Regions from separate parts of the Homo sapiens genome. Here region 2 is linked to region 1. Evidence: fine-mapped expression QTL. A gene starts in region 1. The other region holds a variant in brackets. All regions are shown on one strand. Distances are from middle to middle. Region 1 holds the start of ARPC5 (actin related protein 2/3 complex subunit 5). Region 2 has its middle 37 kb from the start of APOBEC4.

Region 1 (4,399 bases):
CTATTCCCTTAAGCTGATTTCTACTCTGGGATTCTTTCATAGTTCTCAAATAAGAAAATAAAAAATTTCCTAAATAAGGCAATACAAAAGAATAGAAATGTAAGAGAAGAGATATATTAGCTCTTGAATCCCTGTTTCCATTTGCTGTCAATAGTGCCTCTAATGTTCGATTTTCTCTTCAAAGAAAAATCTTGATTTAAAAGAAGAAAAAGTACAATCACCTTTAACAGCTAAAGTATACTGATTAGCATCTACTAAAGTTAGCAAAGACTGAAACTGAAAAAAAATTGTAAAATCTTTATTCTAAGTTATATAACGCCATTCACCATAGTAATGATTTTATACTTTGGTATATGGCTTTTTAAAATAAATATTGCCAACAGGTAAAAATTTTTCCTTTGCTGTCTTAAGGCATTCCTAAGAGAATTTTTACCAGTGTGTGTTCATAACTTGAATGTTAATTTAAACAATGTTACTTCTATCACCTAAATGATATACTTATAGAAGAGTGGTTTAATTGGGAACAGAAAAACACCACATTGCTTCTTCCCAAGAAAAAGGGATGTATTCCATTCTCGAGGTCTCTCTCCCACTCTCTATTTATATATAATATACTGCATAGATAAATATACACACATTATATATGTATTTTTTTGAACTTAAAGAAGACTGGACATATGTATTTACATGTATATATCCAACAAATATTTAATTTTGAGATCTCTCTCCCTCTTCTGATTTATTATTCTCAGTATGATTCTCAAACTGTACGGTCTTTCACATTTCATTCATTCATCAAGCATGTATCGAGTCCCTTCTGCATGCTTAGCTTTTTGTCATATGGAAGGAAGATACAAAAGAAAAACTGTTTCTGCCCTTCAGAATCTTTCCATCTCTTCTAGGAAGGAGATAAAACACCATATATCATTAAGAAATTTATAAGACTAGTCCCAAAACCAATGGTACAAGCAACATGCATTTTACATTTATGTAGAATTTTAGAGCTTGGAAACACTTTCGTGATATATAATCCTAAGAACAATCTTGTAAAGTGCACATTATTAGCTCCATTTCAGTGATGAGGAATCTGAGACAGAATTTTAAGTGACATGTCTCGTTCAAACATTATGAGTGGAAGAGTCAACACTTAAGCCTGAGTTTTCTGATTCTAAGCCTAGTGCTCTTTTCAACACAGCACTGGAAACCAAAGATTGTGGTACACAACAGGGCAACAGCCAGTCTTCTGCTCGAGGTCCAACTAAACTGGACCCATACCGAGCAGTGTCCAGCCAAATGTCCAAATTAATTTTATCCTGCAAATATTTGTTCTTCAGTGTAATACACACAGCACAACTACCATTTCCTTCGTCTTAGTGCCTTTATCTCCTACATTCCAGAAATGGGGATGTCAAATATTTTTTTAAATCTGGCCTAGATGGAATCATATAAATCTCAAATCATAATATAAATCTTAAAGGTCTGGTTTCCACCAATCCTTCCACATTTTGTTTTCCCCCAGCACTAGAGAGCCTAACCTACCCTCACCCCTTTCGAGCATTCTTGCTCCAAACGACCACCTATTTTAAGATGTCAATGACCCTTTCCCAAATTCTACAAATTCACCCCAGTTTTGCCACCCGACCCCAGCGCCTGCCCGGACACGTTCCCCTCCCTCCCAATAGATTTGATACCGAGTTCAGGTTCTGCAGATCCCGTTGCGATGCTGTCACACAGCACTGACAGATAAGATTTGACCTTTCGACTCCGTCCTTGGGGACTTCCCGCTGGCCAAGAAGGGTAGTTCCAATCCCAGGAAACGGGCTTCCTGCTCAGGAACGCAGCCTCTAGCAGCGCACAGTCTGAGGCAATGTCTCCGGCAATTAGAACGATGCTGGGCGCCCGGGTGTGCATCACTCTGCCTCATACTCCTACCAACTGCAGGGCACTCGGTCCGGCAGCCAGTCCATCCCACCCACAGCCAAGTCCCAGCCAGCCGGACCTTACGCAGGACCCCGATGATAGGTCGTTGACGGCTGCAGCAAAAGCCAAGGCCACCTGCCGCTGCTGCCCATCCCCGCCAATCTGAGACCCCCTAGACTGGACCGCAGAAAAGCGTTTCTATGGGAACCCCCCCACCGAGAATCACGTGACGCAATCGGACGACCAATCGCTTCTTACCTCTGCCCGCGGTCCAGCTTTTGGCCCTCCCTCTCGCCCCCGCCTCCTTCGCCCAGCCCCGCCCCTTGCCTGCGGAGAGCCCGCGCCTGCGCGCTGTGTCCTGCGCGCTCCTTCCCTCGCGCGCGCTCTCCGTGGAAGAGCAGGGGCAGCGTGGGAGGCGCCAAGGGAGCGCGAACCTGAGGAGGAAGAAACGGGGCTAGCGCGCAGGCCCAGAACGGTCCGAGCCGCGGCAGTCGGCGACGCCTCAGAGCGGAAGAGGGAAGTGAATCAGGCGCCGGGTAGTGGGTTGCTGGGCTGGGCTTGCTGAGGTAGAGGCAGCGCCAAGAAGAGGCCTTTGCCGCTGGTCGGGATTGGGATGTCGAAGAACACAGTGTCGTCGGCCCGCTTCCGGAAGGTGGACGTGGATGAATATGACGAGAACAAGTTCGTGGACGAAGAAGATGGGGGCGACGGCCAGGCCGGGCCCGACGAGGGCGAGGTGGACTCCTGCCTGCGGCAATATCCTTGCATTCACCGCCCTCCCCACCCCAGCCCAGCCCAGCCCGCCCTTCTCCTGGGACCCGGGAGCCTGCAGGATCCGCGGGGCACCGGCGCGGAGCTGCCCTCTCAACCTGCGGCTTAACCTGTCTCTTTGGGATCGCCCGCTCTGAGAGGGCAAGGGGGAAGCCCCCGTTTCCTACCCAGTCGGCAGGAGACGCGAGGGTCCCACTCTTGGAAGCCTGCCCTCCCCCGCGCGCCTTCCACGCCCCCAGATTCCTCAGGTTGCACCCGAGTGCCTGCCTGCCTCGGGAACTGGTCCCGCCGGCCGCGCCCTCGCGGCGCTGGGGAAGGCGGCCCCGGCTGGTGGGGAAGGCTGGTGCCGAGCGCCTTAGTTTTTCTTCCTAGAACTCTGATTTCCTGGGGTCACATTAGCTCCAGAAATTTCTGATTGTGGGGAACCTGCATCTTTCCTTAGTGGTTTTGTTTTTTGTTGTGTTTTTGTTATTGGTAGCGTTAAGGTAGTTTATTCCTTACCGGGGGGCGGGGGGAGATGGGACTGTTCGAAAATTGAGGGTCCCTGTGCTTTCAGCCCATTGGCCTTTTTAAAAAAAAAAAAAAAAGAAGAAGAAGAAGGGGATTTGGCAAAATATACATTGTACAGAATTTGTTAACTGGGGGAGGGGAATGAATACAAAAAATACAAAACTCCTAGAAGGAAGCTTGGAGCCTTTTACCTGCTAAGAAAAGGACAATAGAAAAAACAACGGGGAATGCGTGTGGAGAATCCTTGGAAATATTTAAAATAAACCCCAATGAATAAGATAGAAGATGAGTCATTCGTATAAAGCAGAATCATTTTTGTAATCCTAAAATTGTTTCCATTTTAGTTAAAATATGGCAGTCAGTTCCCGGTTTCTGTTTTTGCATATTTGAATATTCATAACTTTGGCTTCGCATTTGCATTACATCTTTTTTAGAAAAATGTAAATGTTGCAAAAAAACCGAAGCTGTAGTTTTAGAAAATCTCAGACACTGAATTTGTATGCATTTCTAATTCTTGGGTGTATTCATAAGGAAGACTCTCAACAATGTCCTGTTATAGTGGGGAAATATGAGAGTGAAAATATTTAATGGCAACAATATCCTTTTTTAAAGGCACCTAAATAGAGCATTAGACATTTATCAATATATAGATAGTGCTTTGCCACAACTTTCACAATTAATTAGCTGTTGCTCTTTTGCATTATTTAAATACTTAAGTGCTTGGAGTTATAAAAAATGAGCTAATCTACATCAGGCATGCTTCTCTAGAAATCCCTGCAGCCTTGAAAATAACAGCTTGTCAACCAGAGATTTTGTGTAAGAACTTTTTCTTTAGAAAATAAATGGTGAACATGCTTCCTAAAAACATTATTTGTGATGGATAGATGGTGTTTTATGAAACCCCAGTGTATTTTAGGTAATTTGTGGTGACTTTTAAATGGTACTGCTGTATCCATATCAGTGGATCTGCTTTTTGATCAGTTCATCTTAAAATATAAAGATACTGTCTCTTCTTACCGTTACATACAGCCAGGAAAGACAGCCCTAGTGGTGGGGTACTAGAGTTGGAGGAACAAGTGAACTCTGTGGTTTTCCTTTTAGGGGAATGTTTGTACATTCTGACAGTCTGATTGGCCTTCTGTTTCTCATGCTTGCTAACTCACTAGTGCTTTCAAAGAGAGCCTGAATTTAATAGGTA
Region 2 (4,399 bases), 54 kb before region 1:
TATTAAAATATATATTAAGATTCTCATATTCATATATACATAAATATATGTTACCAGATTCAATAAATAAGATTAGATCACCACAGAAGTGATAATACATTTTGAACATTCACTGAAGTGGCCCTTTATGTTGAATCATTAAGAGTTGAATAGTCTATTTTTCATAAAATTGTATGATCTGAGCATTTTTCTTAATGCTTGACTTTAAGGCTATTAAAATTCAACATTATTAAATTAACATTAGTTATGCATATTTCAGGTTTATAAATCAAAAATGCACAAGTTTCCAGTGTCAACAAATTTCTCAGGTCCTCCAATTAAACTGAATTCTATGTAAAAATATGGCTTACTAATGTTTAAGATATAATTGAGGTTTATATACCTATTCATTCTCTCAACATTACTATCTTCTTTAACTATTATCCAATTAATTACTCTCCTAAAGATAGAATTATGGGAAAATCCCTTTTGTATTATTCGTTTGCATAAACTTAACAACTTTTTTGTTCCTCAATTACTGGGCTCTTATCAATTACATAAACCAATAATATGAAACTCTTTTTTATTGCAATCCTTTTTGGAACAAGCCAGGAAACAAAGGAACAGCTTATTTTTTCATAGATCTCTTTCCTTCCTCCTTAACTCACAATTGCAACATGATAGAGCTATCACTTCAGGGCATGTGATAGCGTAACACTCACCCAGAAGTAGAAATCCATCACTCCTATCTCTGATATATTAGTATGTTAACCTCTAGTTGGCAATGGCCCAAAGAGGGGCTCCAATCCAAATGTTTTCTATACAAACTGAGCATCCAATATTAAAAGAATCCGCATCTATGGCAAATAACCAAGTCATGTTCATTTTATTCAGTTTTTATGATGAAATGCAGATTTTTCATTATGAGGCAAATCCCTACATTCAAAAACCTAAATAGAATAATCCTTAAAAAATAATGTTTGCTGGTTAAAGCACTAACAATTTTTATTTTTATTTTTTATTTTTATTTTTTAAAGTTCCAAAATTTAATTTATACTTTAATCTACAAATCCAAAAATCTCAGTGAACCCCAATCAGGATATATACAACATAAACCTCAATTAGGCATATCATGTCAATGACAAAAGCATAAGTTGTTCAAGAAGTGATCTTAACATGACTTGCTTTCCATTAAAATAACTTGAGTCACTACTTGATGTCATAAACTTCAAATATGCTAACGTGCTAAGTATAAAAAGCAAAACTATTAACAAGTAGAAGAAAAATCAGTGGGAGAATGGGCATACTTTTACATGATCTGGTTGAAATACATTCTTTTTTTTTTTTATAAGTACCTCATCTTTCTAGCACTAACAATTTTTAAAAATTATTTCTGCCTTTGAATTAAGTATATTTTCATTTGGGCAACAATGGGATACATTTTCATTCACTTTTAGTTCAGTAGTTTCTCTCAAACAGGCAGTGTAGCCTCCATCGCTTAGATGATCTCTTTTGACAATCAGCTAAAGATACAGCATGTTAGTGATACACTTTCAGGGAAAGATCATTTAATAAATATTGATACCTATATTGTTAGCCTGAATCTCCCTCCTCCCTTCACCTCCCTACCCCATCGAATTCTTCCTTTTTCCCTTTCTTTAAGACTTCATGAAAAGATAAATAATGATAATGCTACCTATTCGTGATTACAACTACAAAACGTAACATTCTTTTAAAATCTGCATCTACTTCTTTCAAAGCTGAGAATTCTCCCTGGAAAACTGCTCATATAAACATACATACAACATTTTGCAAATAATTCCAGGGGTTCAAAGCATCTCTAAAATCCATCCATAGGTGTAGAAAGTGTCTGTGGTCTCCCAGAGTAAACACTGCTCCACAAGCCAATTCCCAC[A/C]CAGCCACCCATTCAACTCCCACCTAGCCCAAGGCTTGCCACTTCATCAGCCCTTCCTTCAGTCAATACTGCTGAGCCCAAATTAACTTGTGGCTCCTCATGAAGCCTTTCCAAGCTCCTTCAACTCATGTGGGTTTCTAACTTTTCTAACTTCCTCATAGACACACAGTCAAGTCTTACAACTTAGCCTTCAATTTCCCTCTAGATGATTCATACAGGTAAATTAGGCCCTTAAACCTAACTGGTAAACCCCTGAAAGCAGATACAATGTACCTCACATCTCTGCAGTTTCCCCCACAGCACCTGGCACAGTGCCAGAAGCTGAATGAATGTTTTTTATTGCATAATCAACCCATCCCTCTGTTCATCTTCTGGGTAGCCTCTGTCCCACCACCCCTACTTGCCCCACAAGGATGAGGCCAGGAATCACAACTTTATGAGTTGTATCTATGTTATGCAGTGATCAGGAGCTATCACTCACTTTTTTATTTATTCACTCAGCAGACATTTATTAAGTTCTTACTATATGTCAAGCACTAAGGTAGGTACTGGAAATACAAAAGCTACAGAAATGTAAGCAAATTATTGATGATGTGTTACATGCAATAACAGAGTTACATACAAGGCAGCAATAGAAAGGAGCAACTATCTATCTAGAAATGTTAGTGAAGTCATAGTGGAGAACAGGGTGCTTGAAATAGATGCTAAAAAAAATTGGTATGAATTTAAGCAAATGACCCAGGATGGGAAACACATCCAGGAGAGAAACAGCAAATGCAAAGACACAAATGCATGAAGATAAAATGTCTCTTATCCTCTCTTCACCTTCCCTGGTCAGCCCTGGCATGAGCCTCCATTTCAGTAAGGCCAATTCAGTTCACCTTTAGGATTATTTACATGAACTAAGTAATGGGAATATATATTTTTTAATTTACTAAGATGCACTGCCTAGCAAATATGAATTTCAAAATACTAAATAAATTTAGTATTGTGGGTTTGGAAATCCAATCCAAATCCAAATTATGGGTTTGGAAAGAAATACACGTGGCTGACTCAACATTCATTTTATTGGGTTATATATTTTTATAGAGAATATTTTTAATACAATTTTAATTTTAATGATCTGTCTGCCTTTAAGGGATAAAATAACATCAAGAAAAATTGCTGTAAAGTTATTTATTCAATGTTTCCATTCCTGTGTCATTTACCTCTCCAAGTGAATTTCAGTTTCTCTGTCTGCTGGCTTCGTAAACCTCTCTTTGGACTTTAACAACTATGGAATCATTTTTACTGTGAAGTTTAATATCCTGCTTTAAAATCCAAATATGATTCACATATTGCATCTTCAATATTTCTAAAGCAAAATGGTCTGCTTGGAAATTTTTTTAAAATGACTTTTCTCCAGAATACTTAAAAACATACCTTCCAATATCTGGAAAGGGGACTTATTTAAATACATGCATAATACTGTTTTCCTGCCTTTTATTTTAAGAAGACAAATTAATAATACTGCTGAACTAATTTTAACAAATACTAATGGTATTAAAATGCATCAATAGTCTGGCTTAAAAAAAAGTTGAAAAAATGTCAAGAATAAATGGTTGCAGAGGCGTCAGTCTTGGCACTTAATACTTTTTCAGAGACCTGAGCCTGTAATTGCTTTTAAAGACATGAAAGTCCTTGCTGTCTCTCTCTCTCTCTCTCTCTTCAGTAGATCCAGAGATTTCATTTTGAGAGCCTGGAGGATGCTCCAAAATTTATAATAAAGACATAAAGCCTCACTGATGGTGCTATATAAAAGGTGTTTTTACTGTTGTTAATCTCAGATACACATAAGCAAGCAAAAATTTCCCAAGGAAGTAATTTAAAACTATTTAGAGCTGTTTCATGAATCTCTGAGTTCAGATCTTGGCATCTTTGTAGCCATTGGAGTTCTGGGACCACAAAGTTGAAAACATCAAGAGAATGAAGCCCTGGATCCTCATACTAGAATGGTGAGATAATGATAATCAGGATAATATATTACACTTGTATTGTGCTTTATAATTGTAAGAATTATTTCCCAAGATTCATCTCATGTGATCATCCTAAACCACCAACAGAAATAACAAGCCTAGATTTCAGAAGCAAGACATCCAAGGTCATGTGGCCAGCTAGTGGCAAGACTAGAATCAAAACCCAGATCTTGCTGACACAAAATACCTTTTCCATTACACTAGATATAGAATGACCAATCAATCTCTCTACCCACTCTTCCCTCACTTTGTTTTCCATTTCTTAAAAGAATCATTGATTTTTTAAAATATATAGTATTTCAGGATCCTCAAACCTTCATTTTAAGTTTCCAGTTTTAAAAATTTATTCATTGGCCCGGTATCGAGTTCCTCTTTATTCAAAGTTAGCCTTAGTGGAAGAAGGGCAGTCCAAAGCAAATAAAGATGTTTTGCATTCACTTCTCTTTGTTCCCTTTTACATCATTGTTGAAGCACATACTGAATACCTCTC

The links.
Region 2: its variant is fine-mapped to the expression of ARPC5 in whole blood (TOPMed, PIP above 0.99).

Annotation. Positions count from the first base shown.
Region 1 is chr1:183,633,794-183,638,192 of GRCh38, reverse strand. It overlaps ARPC5 (actin related protein 2/3 complex subunit 5), which reads left to right and starts at 2,410. Exons shown (of 4, transcript NM_005717.4): 1 at 2,410-2,676. The coding sequence starts at 2,534. It also overlaps a transcript of RGL1 not described here. RefSeq lists silencers at 2,127-2,286, 2,767-2,816, 2,897-2,956, 2,908-3,126 and enhancers at 2,437-2,716, 2,714-3,214.
Region 2 is chr1:183,687,659-183,692,057 of GRCh38, reverse strand. It overlaps a transcript of RGL1 not described here. Among named protein-coding and RNA genes, the nearest start is that of APOBEC4, 37 kb to the right of the region's middle. The variant A/C (reference allele first, on the strand shown) is at 1,895.